Regions from separate parts of the Homo sapiens genome. Here region 2 is linked to region 1. Evidence: fine-mapped expression QTL. Tissue or cell type: whole blood. Region 1 holds a variant in brackets; the other region holds the start of a gene. All regions are shown on one strand. Distances are from middle to middle.

Region 1 (8,183 bases):
GAGACAAGGCAAGTCCCTTCCACCTACGGGGCTGTAAAATCAAAAGCGAGTTAGTTACTTCCTAGATATAATGGGGGTACAGCATTTGGTAAATACAGCCATCCCAAATGGGAGAAATTGGCCAAAACAAAGGGGAAACAGGCCCCATGAAAGTCTGAAATCCAGTGGGACAGTCAAATCTTAAAGCTCCAAAATGATCTCCTTTGCCTCCATGTCTCACATCCAGGTCATGCTGATGCAAGGGGTTGGTTCCTATGGTCTTGGGCAGCTCTGCCCCTGAGGTTTTGCAGGGTACAGCCTCTCTCCAGGTTGCTTTCACGGGCTGGCATTGAGTGTCTGTGGTTTTTCTAGGTGCACAGTGCAAGCCGTCCATGGATCTACCATTCTGGGGTCTAAAGAACAGTGGCCCTCTTCTCACTGCTCCACTAGATGGTGCCCCAGTAGGGACTCTGTTTGGGGGCTCCAATCTCACATTTCCCTTTCACACTGCCCTAGCAGAGGTTCTCCATGAGGGACCCACCCCTACCGCAAACTTCTACATCTTCTGATATCTAGGCGGAGTTTCCCAAACCTCAATTCTTGACTTCTGTGCACCCACAGGCTCAAAGCCATGTGGAAGCTGCCAAGGCTTGGGGCTTGCACCCTCTGAAGCAACAGACAGAGCTGTACTTTGGCCCCTTTCATTCATGGCTGGGATGCAGGGTATGAAGTCCCTAGACTGCATACAGCAGAGGGACCCTGGGCCCAGCCCACGAAACCACTTTTTCCTCCTAAACCTCTGGGCCTGTGATGGGAGGGTTGCCATGAAGAACTCTGACATGCCCTGGAGACACTTTCCCCATTGTCTTGGGGATTAACATTCAGCTCCTTGTTACTTATGCAAATTTCTGCAGCCAGCTTGAATTTCTCCTCAGAAAATGGGATTTTCTTTTCTAGCACATTGTCAGGCTGCAAATTTTCCAAACTTTTGTGCTCTGCTTCCCTTATAAAACTGAATACCTTTAACAGCACCCAAGTCACCTCTTGAATGCTTTGCTGCTTAGAAATTTCTTCTGCCAGGTACCCTAAATCATCTCTCTCAAGTTAAAAGTTCCACATATATCTATGGCAGGGGCAAAATGCCCCTAGTATCTTTACTAAAACATAAGAAGAGTCACCATTGCTCCAGTTCCCAACAAGTTTCTTGTTTCCATCTAAGACCACCTCAGCCTGGACTTTATTGTCTATATCACTGTCAGCATTTTGGGCAAAGTCATTCAACAGGTCTCTAGGAAGCTCCAAACTTTCCCACATATTCCTGTCTTCTGAGCCCTCAAAACTGTTCCAACCTCTGCTTGTTGCCCAGTTCCAAAGTTTCTTCCACATTTTCAGGTATCATTTCAGCAGCGCCCCACTCTACTTGTACCAATTTACTGTATTGTTTCATTTTTATGCTGCTGATAAAGACATACCTGAGACTGAGCAATTTGCAAAAGAAAGGGGTTTATTGGACTTACAGTTCCACATGGCTGGGGAGGCCTCACAATCATGGCGGAAGGCAAAAGGCACATCTCACATGGAACCAGACAGGAGAAGAGAGCTTATGCAGGGAAACTCATCTTTTTAAAACCATCAGATCTCGTGAGACTTTTTCACTATCCCGAGAACAGCACAGGAAAGACCTGCCCCCATAATTCAATTACCTCCCACCGGGTCCCCCCACAACACATGGGAATTCAAGATGAGATTTGGGTGGGGACACAGCCAAACCATATCACCCCCCCAAAAAAAATCCCGTTTAGATTTTTATGTTTATGAATATATGTATATGCATACATGTGCATGCAGAAAATTATAACAGAAAGATAGAGTATTACATAAGTAAATATGTATTTTTTATATGTACTGATTTGTAGAATAACAATTATAAGTGATATAAGGTGAAAGAAGCAATTTGTTCATAAGTATGTAGCATGATTCCATTTCAGTAAAAATTAACAAAAACATGCTTGTATGTGCATGGGCATATATTAATATGTGCTCATATATACATGCTATACATATATATATATGTATGCTGATATATGTATGTGGAAGCAATATGTTTGGGATGATACACACCCTTGCAATAACATGAACTACCTCAGGGAGTACTATAGATGACAGAGACAGTGGGGGAAGAGGAGCAATGTTACCTTAAAAAAAAACTTTGCATCCTATTACTGGTTACAAGAGGCATATAAAATTATTTTTAAAATTTTAAATAAATATGTTAGCAACCTTTGTATGGATGGAAAATTTTAAATATGTATGAAAATACTGATTGCGTATACCTTTTGAAATTCTACTGATAGGCATTTATCCTACATATTTACATATACAAACATTTATGACATTCATAGCACTATTGTTTTAAAGGTGAGATGTTGGAAACATCCTAGCTATTTAACTATAGGGGAATGACCAAATAAGTTTGGCTCACTCAAAGGATACCATGGAAGAGCAAGGCTTTGCATCGTATTTCGATATGAAACTGTTAGAAGCACCTTTATTTTGAATAGCCTCTAAGAAAAAGTTGGATAGAAAGAGTCTAAATGAAATATTCTGATTAATAACAGAACCTATACTATAAGATGGTGAATTTCTGATCAGAAAGGTGAAAAGTTCATCTATAGCTTAAGTGGACAAATTTAATTTTCTATAACATTCATATCTGATAGATTAAATAAACAGGTACAATTTCCTTAAGAAACATGCTTTATAAGTTTTATGGTCACTACATTCTTTAAAGTTAAAGGTTACATTCCTGGGAGATTAAATAAAAACTGCAGAGTTAACAGTTGACTTGCCTGAGGAGCTACTTGTTCTTCCTCAGTAGACATTGAAGAGAAAAGTAATGTAATACAACAGAAACAGAGCACGCACCTGGTAAACATGTAACAGCAAAAGGGGGTGCACAGGCCTTTGCCCTACCTGGCGGGTGTCCTCTGTTCGTTGTACTTCTGAGGTTGCCAGAATGTAAATGTTCATTTCACTATCTTAAATGAGCAGAGAAATAACCAGAATCAGACTTTGAATTCTAGAAGCTCTTGGATCAAGAAGATTCTGTCTTTCCAACGTTTGCATCAAATAACATCGTGACCTATACTATCTTTTTTAATATTAAGTGAAGCTTAATCAAAATTTTAGGTTTAAAATACAAGAGTCGTTAAAATGATACATCGTTAGGTAGAAAAACATGCAGAATAGTATGCTGTTTCATTTGGAGGGGAGGAAAAGAAAATAGAAAATGCTTAACATCACAGTTTTTATTTTTATTACCTCATGGAAGAACTTCTCTACAACCACTGATTTTCTTACTTGCTTTCTAAGCAATGTAGAATTTTAGTCACCACTTCACCATTAATTTCTTGTTATTAATCCATTGCCGTTTTCCCAGCTGAAAGAGAAAACTTCCTTTTAATCTTCTAACTCATTTTGAAACAATTTCAACTTACAAAAGTTACAAAAATAGTAGAGATTCACATATACCCTTCACTGTGTTTTCCTGAATGTTAATATCTTACTATCACTACCATGATCAAAAGCAGGTAATGAGCATCGATACGCTACCATTCACAAAACCAGAGACCTTATTCACATTTTGCCAGTTGTCCCACCGAAGACCTGTTTCTGGGCCAAGACCTAATCCAGAATCCCACATTGCATTCAGTTGTCACCTCTCAGTCTACTTTAATCAGAAGCATTGCTCAGTCTTTGTCTTCCAGGACCTTGACACTCTTGAGGAGTACTGGTCAGTTGTTTTGTAGAATGTTCCTTCGCTTGGATTTGTCTTATGTTTCAGCATGGTTAAATTCAGGTTATATATTTTTGGCAGGGATACTACAAGTTGATGTTGCATCCTTCTCTGTGCATCACTTCAGGAGGCACAAGACGTCCACCTGTGCTTTTACTAGAATGTTAACTTTGTCAGCAGGGTTCTGCCACAATAAAATTACTGTTTCCCTGATGCAGTTAATAAGTACCTGATGGGGAGATACTTTGAAACTATGTAAATGTCTTGTGTTTTCATCATACTCTAGCTCACAGTTGATCACCCATTATTCTTTTTCAAAATTACAGCTTTATTAAGGCACAACTTAGCCACTCATTTAAGTGTACAACTCAATGAGTTTTAATAACATTTATACAGTAGTGCCACAATCATCCCAATCCAGTCTTAGAACACTTTCACCATCCCAAAAAATTCCTTTGTGTCTGTGTACAATTAATCTCTTTAGCTTTGGCCCCAGGTAACCATTGGTCTGCCTTCTGTCTTTGTTTATACAATACACTGAATTTTCTCTCATTATTTACTTGCTTGCCTTTTTACTCTGAACACATATTAGTTTATGAGTGAGAAGACAATTTCTAACACATTGTTTGGTATATGACACAGGAAAGACACTGACCAGCCTGGAAGTCAAGAGAAATAATGGATTCTTTAGTGTCAGACTAAACATAAACTTTGAACATTCTAGATAGTAGCAGAACCTAAATTATCCAGTTGCCTTAGATCTTCAGTTAATTCATAAAAATAATTCCAATTAAATTCTTTCTCTGAATTTATAAAGTCAAAAGCATAACCTTTGATCCTTATATGCACAAAGCA[AT/A]TTTGATTTTATCATGTCAACATGCCTTAGAAAAATGGTAAGGTCCAGGGGTTTTGTTTCTTTGTTTTTTTCTTGTTGTCATTTTGTTTTGTTTTCCTTTGGTTTGTTAGTTTTGAAGGCCTTCACTCTTTGGTTTGCTGTTTAAAATTAGTTTCTTCCGGAGCCAATTTCATTAACCCAGTGAAATATAATTTCAAGGACATTGTGTCTTACCCACACCCTCCAAGGTATGTTTTATATAATAACACAATGTTGTTAAAATCAGGATAATTTTATTTTTAAAAAACGTATATATCTAGCATCTCTCAAAAGAAAATCCTTAGATCTAGCAGTACATGGCCCAAGTTTCCACAGCTGGAGCAAGTTGTGGCCATCCACTTTAGACAGAATATGTTCTTTGGTTTGCCAAGGCCCCACCTATTCCCTATTGAATCACATCACAGCTGCTTCATTCTTGTAAGCTCCTTATCTAGCCCTGTTGGACACTTGAGTTTGTTTATGTATTTATTTATATATAAATTTTTATTTTATATATATATATATCTGTATAACCACAACCACAGATGTGTGCATATTAAAATTTAACTATTTTCCATAGTTAAATTTTGGCAGGGATACTACAAATTGATGTTGTAGTATCAATTGGCAGGGATACTACAAATTGATGTTGCCAATGCCTCACCTATTCCCCATTGAATCACACCACAATAGCTTCATTCTTGTAAGCTCCTTCTCTAGCCTTTCTGGACACTTGAGTTTGTTTATTTAGCCTTAGTAAAGTAAAGCTCACTAATGTTAAACTTACAGGTATCCTCCCCAACACATAAATACCGAATACACTCTACCATTTCTATCTCCCCACACTTCCAACGTTTAATTTTGGTTAGATTATTTCTTTTTCATTATTATGACTACGTAAACAATATCCACAGATGAGCTTTATAGTATCCTCTGATTCTTTTTTCATTCCTACTCAACTTTTTATTTTCCCTGAAATTAATAATTTTATGAGTTATAATTTTTAATGAGTTTTTATTGTAGTTTTGGTTGCATAATACCATATATTTATCATTAATTCATTCCCAAGCTCTTAAAAAGTTGCTTAAATCTCCTTTTCGTATGTTCAGATGAATCCAGTATTCTTTTAATTTCATTTTCTTCAAGAAATCTATCCTCGGGTCTTGTGATCTGCTCTGTGTTGGAAATTGTTGCCCTTTATGTTACATGCACAGCTCAGGGATCTTGCTGCAGATTCCCTTTTCTTCTGTCTTGTGCTGAATTCCCTTGATTCCTAAATCCTATGTTTTCCTCTTTCATAATTTATACCTTTATTTTTTGTAGAGCACATCCTCTAGTAGCTTCCTGAGAAAAAGCGTGCATCGAGTGAACTCTTTGAGACCTTGCATATCTTAAAATGTTTTTAGTATATACATAGATTCAGTTGATGGGGTGGCTCGTTCAGTAATCAGGCTATATTAGGCTATGCTACAGCAACATATCCCTAAAGTCTTAGTGGCTTAATATGAGAGGAGTTTATTTCTACTTGCATCCCAGACCAAAGCAGGCCAGCTAACACTCACACAAGGCTACTTTCATTGGGCAGTTCCAGAAGTTGGGAGTCCTTCACTTCAGCTGTCAGAATGAGGGGGTGAGAGTGCAGAGAAGGCACTACTACTCTTAATTGTCTCAGACTAGAAGTGGCTTCTTATCCCATTCATACTCCTTTTGTGACTATTATTTATACTATCTGGTCTAAGTCCACAGGGACTGGCAAATGTAGAGATGAATATTTGTTTACTTCATATCCTCTGACACAGTGAAGTTGAGAATTCTGGGTTGGAATTCTTTTCTCTCTCTCTTTTTTTTTTTTTTTTTTTTTTTGAGACGGAGTCTCATTCTGTCACCCAGGATGGAGTGCAGTGGCACGATCTCGGGTCACTGCAACCTCCACCTCCTGGGTTCAAGTGATTCTTCTGTCTCAGCCTTCTGAGTAGCTGGGATTACAGGCATGCGCCACCACGTCTGGCTAATTTTTGTATTTTTAGTAGAGATGGGGTTTCACCTTGTTGGTCAGGCTGGTCTCAAACTCCTGACCTGGTGATCTGCCCTCTGTGGCCTCCCAAAGTGCTGGGATTACAGGCGTGTTCCACCATGCCCAGCTAATTTTTGTATTTTTAGTAGAGACAGCGTTTCACCATGTTGGTCAGGCTGGTCTTGAACACCTGACCTGGTGATCCATCCTCCTCGCCTCCTAAAGTGCTGGGATTACAGGCGTGAGCCACCATGCCCGGCCTCTTTTCTCTTTTGAATGTGGTAGGCACTGCTCTGTGTCTTCCAACTTCCAGTCTCCAAATTGCTGGTGAGAAACCAGTTTAATTATTGACTCTTGGGTATGACTACTTCCTGTCTTCTGAGCACGGAAACACATAGGATTTTCACTTTGTTTCCAGTTTTTGTAGGCTGAATTGTGTCCCCCGCCCCACTTTCCACCAAAATTCACTCAGTGAAGCCCTAACCCCCAGTAGTTTAGAATATGACTGTATTTAGACGTGGGGCCTTTAAAGAGGTAATTAAGGTAAAATGAGGTCTAATGGGCAATTCTTAACCTAATATGACTGGTGTCCTTTTAAGAAGAGGAGACGAGGACACAGACAACAGTGACCAAGGGAAGACAGTATGAGGACACAACTAGAAGACAGCCATCTGTGAGCTAAGGAGAGAAGCGTCAGGAAAAAACGAAACTGCTGTCGCCTCGATCTTAGACTTCTAGCATCAAGAACCATGAGAAAACAAATTTCTGCTGTTCAAGCCACCCAGTCTGTGGTGTTTTGTTACTGCAGCTCTAGCAAACTAATATATCGGTATTTTAAAATCGCACAAATAATGTGACTTGGGATGGGTCTAACTCCATTCTTTTTTTTTTTTTTTTTTTCACTCGAGTAGTCTGTTACAATCTGAGAACTCATGTCCTTGGATTTTCTGGAATTATTTTATTGATTATTTCCTTTCTTCTCTTATCTCTGTTGCTCTCTGTGGATCGCCTCTTATTTAGATGTTGGACTTCTTATTTTAGTCCTTTAATTTTTTTCTTTTTCTTTTCTAACTCTCATTTTCTATATTTTTGCTCTGCTTACTGGGAGATTGGCTCCAATTTATCATCCAAACTTTCTCTGAATTTTTTATTCTACTATTATTTATTGTTCAAATTTCCCAGAGCTCCCTTTTTGTTTCTTGAATGTCCCTTTCTGAAACAGCATAAGACTGGTTTGTGGGTGCAATACAATATCTCCTCTTACGCCTCTGTGGATATTTTTTAAAGTTGTGAATCAATTGAAACTTTTTACTTTTTACTTTTATTGGTACATAATAGGTATTTATATTTATGGGGAACATAAGATTTTTTTTTTTTTTTTTTGAGACGGAGTTTTGCTCTTGTTGCCCAGGCTGGAGTGCAATGGTGCGGTCTCTGCTCACTGCAACCTCCGCCTCCCAGGTTCAAGTGATTCTCCTGCCTCAGCCTCCCGAGTAGCTTGGATTACAGGCATGAGCCAC
Region 2 (8,183 bases), 160 kb before region 1:
TTGCTGAGAGGCCAGGAGCGCATAGATGGGACTCTGCTGATGCCTGCTGAGTGAATGAGGGAAAGGGCAGGGCCCGGGACTGGGGAATCTGTAGGGTCAATGGAGGAGTTCAGAGAAGGTGCAACATTTCTGACCCCCTACAAGGTGCTTGCTACCTGCCAGGCACCCTTTCCATACCTTGTCTCAGTTCAGCTCCCCACCTTGGATAAACAAGAAACCTTGGTTGCAGAGGAAAAAAGAGGCTGGAAACAAAGGGGTAGAAATGGGGTAGCAGGGGAGATTGCCTGATCAACTGCCAAATGGTACACAGTTCTGGAAAAGCACAAAAAATGTGCACACACGGGTTCTTCCCACTTTAACCCCTGAGGAATCTGAGGCCTGCTCCTGAAACAGACTGGGCAGTGGCTAGTGACTCTAGGTATAGGAGTATCCAGCCCTGCTCACCCAGGCTAGAGCTTAGGGGGACAAGAGGAAAGAGGTGCCTGTGGGGGTGGAGGACAGGAAGGAAAAACACTCCTGGAATTGCAAAGTGAGGGCAGAGTCTATTTATATTGGGTTTAATTAACTCCTCTCCCTGGTGCCACTAAAGCAGCAATCACACTGCAGACAGCACTGATTTGATTGGCAAGAGATGCACCAGGCAGAATATTAAGGGACCAGGCCCCTATAAATAGGCCTAATCACAGCCCCTCACTGGAAAATGGTAAGGAAGACATTAATCAGGCCTGGCACTGTGCCCTAGACCTGCTCCCCTAGGCACTACAGTGGGGCCCTTGGTTGCAACACAAGTAGGTATGGATGGATGAGTGTGGCATGAAGGGCCTAGGAGATTTCACTTGGGTTTAAAATGCTGTGACCTTGAGTAAGTTGCCGTCTCTGAATCTGATCCTTTCGATTTCCCATTCTCCAAACTGAGAACTAGCACTGCTGAGACGTGGTTATTTCCAATAATAATTTGTATATTTTACATAACGCACCACACCAACATCTTCACCCAGTTGGAGCCTACTCCTTTGCTCCCGCTGCTGGCTTCCCCAGCCCTCCCTTCTGCCCTCCTCAGGCCAGCACTTTTCAGTGAGTTCCTCCTTTGCATACAGGCTTTCCAGATCTGTACTTGCCTTGAATACTCATCAGAGCCCAGGAGTTACTCCTCACCTCCCACTTATTTTTCCTCCCATCAAATAACTAAAGCATGGCCAGCTGATGCCCAGCCAACTGAGAAACCCAACCCTCTGAGACCAGCACACCCCTTTCAAGCATGTTCCTCCCTCCCCTTCTTTGTATTTATACTGATGCAAGTTTGCTGGCTGTCCTAACTTATTTCTGTGCCTCAGTTCTCCCATATGTAAGATCACAAAGGGGGTAAAGATGCAAGATATTTCCTGTGCACATCTTCAGATGAATTTCTTGTTAGTGTGTGTGTGTTTGCTCACACATATGCGTGAAAGAAGAGTACATACACAGATCTCCTCAAAAAGGAGGCAGCAAGCCCGTTCAAGAATGGGACTGAATACACCTGATGAGTGGTTTACTTTCTGTCTGCAAACATCTACTGATCATCTGTTAGGTGCAGGCCATGATCACAACAAAGACGAATAAGACACTACACTAGCCAGGGAGAGTCTCAAAAACAACTAAACTCAAATTAAATTCATTCTACTCCAGTCATGGGTACAAAGCTAAGGAGTGACAAATCCCTCTTGGAGTTAGGGGAGTCAGGAAAAAGCTCTTAGCAGAATGTGTGCCTCTCGGCCGGGCGCAGCGGCTCACGCCTGTAATCCCAGCACTTTGGGAGGCGAAGGCAGGCAGATCACCTGAGGTCGGGAGTTCGAGACCAGTCTGACCAACATGGTGAAACTCCATCTCTACTAAAAATACAAAATTAGCCAGGCGTGGTGGTGCAGGCCTGTAATCCCCGCTACTCGGGAGGCTGAGGAAGGAGAATCACTTGAACCGGGAAGGTGGAGGTTGCAGTGTGCCAAGATCGCGCCATGGCACTCCAGCCTAGGCAACGAGGGTGAACCAGGTCCAGGAAGAAGGTGCAAAGACAGCATTCCAGGTAAAAGAAACAGCTTGAACAAAAAGTGTGTAGGGGAACCGCAAGCGGTCTTGAGTGCTGAGGGTACAATCATCCTTGGGGAAGTACTAGAAGAAAGAATGATAAACAGAGGCCAGTTTGTTAAAAACACTCAAAATTAAAGCTAGGAGTTTGGACTTGTGGCAGGAATGAAATCCTTAGACCTGTGCTGTCCAATATGGTAGCCACCAGGCACATGCAGCCACTGAGCACTTGAAATGTGGATAGTCTGAATTGAGATGTGCCATAAGTGTAAAATATGCACCAAATTTCAAAGGCTAGAAAAAAAGAATGTAAAATATCTTATTATTTTATATTGATTACATGCTAAAATAACCATATTTGGGATATACTGGATTTTAAAAATATATCACTAATTTCATCTGTTTCTTTTTACTTTTAGAAATCACATATGTGACTTAAATATTTCTTTTCTTTTTCTTTCCTCTCACTCAGCGTCCTGTGATTCCAAAGAAATGAGTCTCTGCTGTTTTTGGGCAGCAGATATCCTAGAATGGACTCTGACCTAAGCATCAAAATTAATCATCATAACGTTATCATTTTATGGCCCCTTCTTCCTATATCTGGTAGCTTTTAAATGATGACCATGTAGATAATCTTTATTGTCCCTCTTTCAGCAGACGGTATTTTCTTATGCTACAGTATGACTGCTAATAATACCTACACATGTTAGAACCATTCTGACTCCTCAAGAATCTCATTTAACTCTTATTATCAGTGAATTTATCATCATCCCCTATTTTACATAAGGAAATGGGGTTAGAAAGACCAAATAACATTTTTTCAACATCAAAACACTAGCTTGAGATCAAGCCCAGACTTGGATCTGTCGTCTGAATTCCAAGCTTTTTGTTATTTATTGATATGTTTTGTTGTTTTCATGCAATAATGCAAATATTAGCCCAAACATTTTGTTAGTAGTACCAACTGTAAGTCACCTTATCTTCATACTTTGTCTTTATGTAAACCTAAATTAGATCTGTTTTTGATACTGAGGGAAAAACAAGGGAATCTAACACTAACCAGCCCGTAGTGTGTGGTCAACACTTTCGTTACTTTAGTATACATCACCCCAATTGTTTGTCTTCACCACACACTTTGGAGTTAGGTAGTAGTATCTATTTTTACAAATAAGAAAACCCAGGCACAAAGGGGTTGATTAGCAATTATCTTTTGAAAAGCCTGTAGTTGCTCATCTGAAGAAGTGACGGACCACCTCTTATTTAGTGGACAGACAGTAACTAGTTGAGAAGACAGGGGATTTTGTTGGCGGAAAAAAAATTTTATCAAAAGTCGTCTTCTATCAGGGAGTTTTATGAGAAACCCTAGCTCCTCAGTTCCACAGTGGGTAACTGTAATTCATTCTAGGTCTGCGATATTTCCTGCCTATCCATTTTGTTAACTCTTCAATGCATTCCACAAATACCTAAGTATTCTTTAATAATGGTGGGTTTTTTTTTTTTTTTGCATCTATGAAGTTTTTTCAAATTCTTTTTAAGTGACAAAACTTGTACATGTGTATCGCTCAATATTTCTAGTCGACAGCACTGCTTTCGAGAATGTAAACCGTGCACTCCCAGGAAAATGCAGACACAGCACGCCTCTTTGGGACCGCGGTTTATACTTTCGAAGTGCTCGGAGCCCTTCCTCCAGACCGTTCTCCCACACCCCGCTCCAGGGTCTCTCCCGGAGTTACAAGCCTCGCTGTAGGCCCCGGGAACCCAAAGCGGTGTCAGAGAAGTGGGGTCCCCTACGAGGGACCAGGAGCTCCGGGCGGGCAGCAGCTGCGGAAGAGCCGCGCGAGGCTTCCCAGAACCCGGCAGGGGCGGGAAGACGCAGGAGTGGGGAGGCGGAACCGGGACCCCGCAGAGCCCGGGTCCCTGCGCCCCACAAGCCTTGGCTTCCCTGCTAGGGCCGGGCAAGGCCGGGTGCAGGGCGCGGCTCCAGGGAGGAAGCTCCGGGGCGAGCCCAAGACGCCTCCCCGAGCGCGGCTCCAGGACCCCGTCGACCCGGAGCGCTGTCCTGTCGGGCCGAGTCGCGGGCCTGGGCACGGAACTCACGCTCACTCCGAGCTCCCGACGTGCACACGGCTCCCATCCGTTGTCTTCCGAGCGTCAGGCCGCCCCTACCCGTGCTTTCTGCTCTGCAGACCCTCTTCCTAGACCTCCGTCCTTTGTCCCATCGCTGCCTTCCCCTCAAGCTCAGGGCCAAGCTGTCCGCCAACCTCGGCTCCTCCGGGCAGCCCTCGCCCGGGGTGCGCCCCGGGGCAGGACCCCCAGCCCACGCCCAGGGCCCGCCCCTGCCCTCCAGCCCTACGCCTTGACCCGCTTTCCTGCGTCTCTCAGCCTACCTGACCTTGTCTTTACCTCTGTGGGCAGCTCCCTTGTGATCTGCTTAGTTCCCACCCCCCTTTAAGAATTCAATAGAGAAGCCAGACGCAAAACTACAGATATCGTATGAGTCCAGTTTTGTGAAGTGCCTAGAATAGTCAAAATTCACAGAGACAGAAGCAGTGGTCGCCAGGAATGGGGAAGCAAGGCGGAGTTGGGCAGCTCGTGTTCAATGGGTAGAGTTTCAGGCTGGGGTGATGGAAGGGTGCTGGAAATGAGTGGTAGTGATGGCGGCACAACGGTGTGAATCTACTTAATCCCACTGAACTGTATGCTGAAAAATGGTTTAGACGGTGAATTTTAGGTTATGTATGTTTTACCACAATTTTTAAAAAGCTAGTGAAAAGCTGGTAAAAAGAAAGAAAAGAGGCTTTTTTAAAAAGTTAAATATATAAAAAGAGCATCATCAGTCCAAAGTCCAGCAGTTGTCCCTCCTGGAATCCGTTGGCTTGCCTCCGGCATTTTTGGCCCTTGCCTTTTAGGGTTGCCAGATTAAAAGACAGGATGCCCAGCTAGTTTGAATTTTAGATAAACAACGAATAATTTCGTAGCATAAATATGTCCCAAGCTTAGTTTGGGACATACTTATGCTAAAAAACATTATTGGTTGTTTATCTGAGATTCAGAATTAAGCATTTTATATTTTATTTGCTGCCTCTGGCCACCCTACTCTCTTCCTAACACTCTCTCCCTCTCCCAGTTTTGTCCGCCTTCCCTGCCTCCTCTTCTGGGGGAGTTAGATCGAGTTGTAACAAGAACATGCCACTGTCTCGCTGGCTGCAGCGTGTGGTCCCCTTACCAGAGGTAAAGAAGAGATGGATCTCCACTCATGTTGTAGACAGAATGTTTATGTCCTCTCCAAATGCTTATGTTGAAACCCTAACCCCTAATGTGATGGTATGTGGAGATGGGCCTTTGGTAGGTAATTACGGTTAGATGAGGTCATGGGGTGGGGCCCTCATTATAGATCTGGTAAGAAAAGAGAGCATTGTCTCTGTGTCTCCCTCTCTCTCTCTCTCTCTCTCTCTCTCTCATTTCTCTCTATCTCATTTCTCTCTCTCTCTCTATCTCATTTTTCTCTCTCTCTCTTTCTCTCCTCTGTCTTTTCCCACCAAGTGAGGATGCGAAGAGAAGGTGGCTGTCTGCAAACCAGGAAGAGAGCCCTCACCAGGAACCTGTCCAGCTGCCACCTTGAACTTGGACTTCCAAGCCTCCAGAACTGTGAGGGATAAATGTATGATTTTAAAGTCGCCCAGTGTGTGGTATTTTGTTTTGACTAATACAACCTGAAAACATTTTCCCCTCACTCCACCTGAGCAATATCTGAGTGGCTTAAGGTACTCAGGACACAACAAAGGAGAAATGTCCCATGCACAACGTGCACCCATGCCTGGGTAAAGCAGCCTGGCACAGAGGGAAGCACACAGGCTCAGGGATCTGCTATTCATTCTTTGTGTGACCCTGGGCAAGCCATGAATGGAGCTTCAGTCACCCCATTTGTAATGGGATTTAATTGTGCTTGCCCTGCCTCCTTTTGAGGGCTGTAGAGAAAAGATGTCAAAGTATTTTGTAATCTGGCTGGGCGTGGTGGCTCATGCCTGTAATCCTAGCACTTTGGTAGGCTGACGCGAGAGGACTGCTTGAGCCCAAGAGTTTGAGATCAGCCTGGGCAATATTGTGAGATTCCATCTCTACAAAAATAAAATAAAATAGCCAGTCATGGTGTCACACACCTGTAGTCCCAGCTACATGGGAGGCTGAGGCGGGAGGATCACTTGAGCTTGGGAGATCGAGGCTGCAGTGAGCTATGATTGTACCACTGCACTCCAGGCTGGGCGACAGAGAGAGACCCTGTCTCAGAAAAAAAAAAAAAAGTACTTTGTAATCTGTAAGGTTTATTTCAACACACACAAAAAAAGTGTATATGCTCCACGATGCCTGTGAATATACACACACACCACATCATATACCAAGCCTGGCTGTGTCTTCTCACAAATGCACTGCTAGGCACCACCCCCAGTTCTAGAATCACACCAGCCAGTTCACCCTCCAGATGGTTCACCCTCAACTTCATAAAAGTTCCCTACCTAATCTACTGACAGGCTCATCCCCGACCTAATTTTAAAGATTTCCTAGGAGCTGCAATGGGAATCCTGGACCTCAGCCTGGACAAAGAACAGCTGCAGGTCATTCTCATGTGTGGACACAGAAGCTCTGCCTGCCTTTGCTGGCCAGCTGGGCTGAGCGGGCCTGGGAATTAAGGCTGCAGGGTTGGTCCCAGGCAGTCTTGCTGAAGCTTGCCACATCCCCCAGCCTCCTGGATTTGCCAGGATCCAAGAGCATGGACTTTAGGAATTCCTGGTGGAGGAGTGAAGAAAATGTGACAGGGTGTCCTAAGCCCCGATCTACAGGAAGAAAACTGGAAATAAGACTGAGGACTTAGTTTAAGATGTTCCTACTCAGCCTCTAGCTTTTGTGCTACAGTTCTGGGAACAGACTCCTCTCTCCTGAAAACCACTTCCCTCCGCAGCATTAAATTTCACCAAGATGTCTTGCTTGTGGGAAAGACTTCCAAGGATGCCTGGAGAGAGGAGGATGGAAATGTCCTGCTCTCTAAACAGATAGACAGATGCAGCCAGACAGAAAATAGTTTATCTTGCTGAGGTTTCTAATGTATTTGAAAGAGGCCTGGGTCTAGAAGTCTACCCAGAGGGCTCTGTGTTGTGCACGCAAAGATAAGAACCTTCCCTGTGGGAGTTCCAGAGCCAATTTTCCTAAACACCCATCGGTGACTGTGTTCAGAGTGAGTTCACACCATCCTGACCTGCCCTGAGTTAGACCTTACATGGTCTTCCTCCTCTAGGAAGCCTCTGCAGCCCAGGAACCTCCCCTTATCGGAAATGAACAGCATTTGAAGCTTCACCCGACAGACCAGACAGCTTAGCCCTCGTGTTGTGCCATGTGGGTTGTTCTCTGAGAGGCAGGAGAGCATAGTGGTTACTAGGAAGGGAAGGACTTTGGGACTAGACTGCCTCGGCTGGAGTCCTCTTTCTGCTTCATAGCCACGTGATCCTAGGCATGTTACCTGTGCCTCAGTTTTCACTCTGTCAATATGTAATAACTGAATCTGTCTTTGTGGTGAGGATTCAGTGAGTTAACATATTTGAAGTGCTTAAAAATGAGGCTTGTGTCCATAGATTAATGAGTGAATACACAAATGGTGATATGGACATACAGTGGAGTATTAGTCATAAAAAGGAAGGCAGAGCTGATCCATGGCACCATGTGACAGAACCTCAAAAGCATTAGGTTAAGTGGAAGAAGCCAGACACAGGTCACCTATTGTGTAATTCCATTTATAGGAAATATACAGAATATGTAAATCCGTGGAGAAAGAAAGCCGATTTCCAGGGGCTAAGGGGAGGGGAGAATGGGAAGTGGCTGCTTCATGGGTACAAGGTTTCATTTTGAGCTGATGAAAATGTTTTGGAACTACATAGAGATAGTGTTGGCACAACATGGTGAATGTACTGAATGCCACTGATTGTTCACTTTAAAATGGCCAAACTTATATGAATTTCACCTCCATTAAAAAAAAAAAAAAAGGACCAGATGTGGTTGCTCACACCCATAATCCCAACACTTTGGAAAAAGGTGAAAGTTTTTTTTTCTTTTTTTTTTTTATATACTTAAGT

What was found. PIP is the estimated chance that this variant, and not a neighbour inherited with it, causes the effect.
Region 2: it holds the start of WASHC1, and the variant in region 1 is fine-mapped to the expression of WASHC1 in whole blood (TOPMed, PIP above 0.99).

Annotation. Positions count from the first base shown.
Region 1 is chr9:188,936-197,118 of GRCh38, forward strand. LOC105375943 (a long non-coding RNA gene) reads right to left here. Exons shown (of 3, transcript XR_001746595.2): 2 at 3,301-3,418; 3 at 1,779-3,017. Among named protein-coding and RNA genes, the nearest start is that of ZNG1A, 14 kb to the left of the region's middle. The variant AT/A (reference allele first, on the strand shown) is at 4,631.
Region 2 is chr9:25,154-33,336 of GRCh38, forward strand. It overlaps WASHC1 (WASH complex subunit 1), which reads right to left and starts at 4,303. Exons shown (of 11, transcript NM_001378090.1): 1 at 4,159-4,303. It overlaps MIR1302-9HG (MIR1302-9 host gene), which reads left to right and starts at 4,506. Exons shown (of 3, transcript NR_197460.1): 1 at 4,506-4,729; 2 at 5,189-5,292; 3 at 5,605-5,738. It overlaps MIR1302-9 (microRNA 1302-9), which reads left to right and starts at 4,991; the gene lies at 4,991-5,128.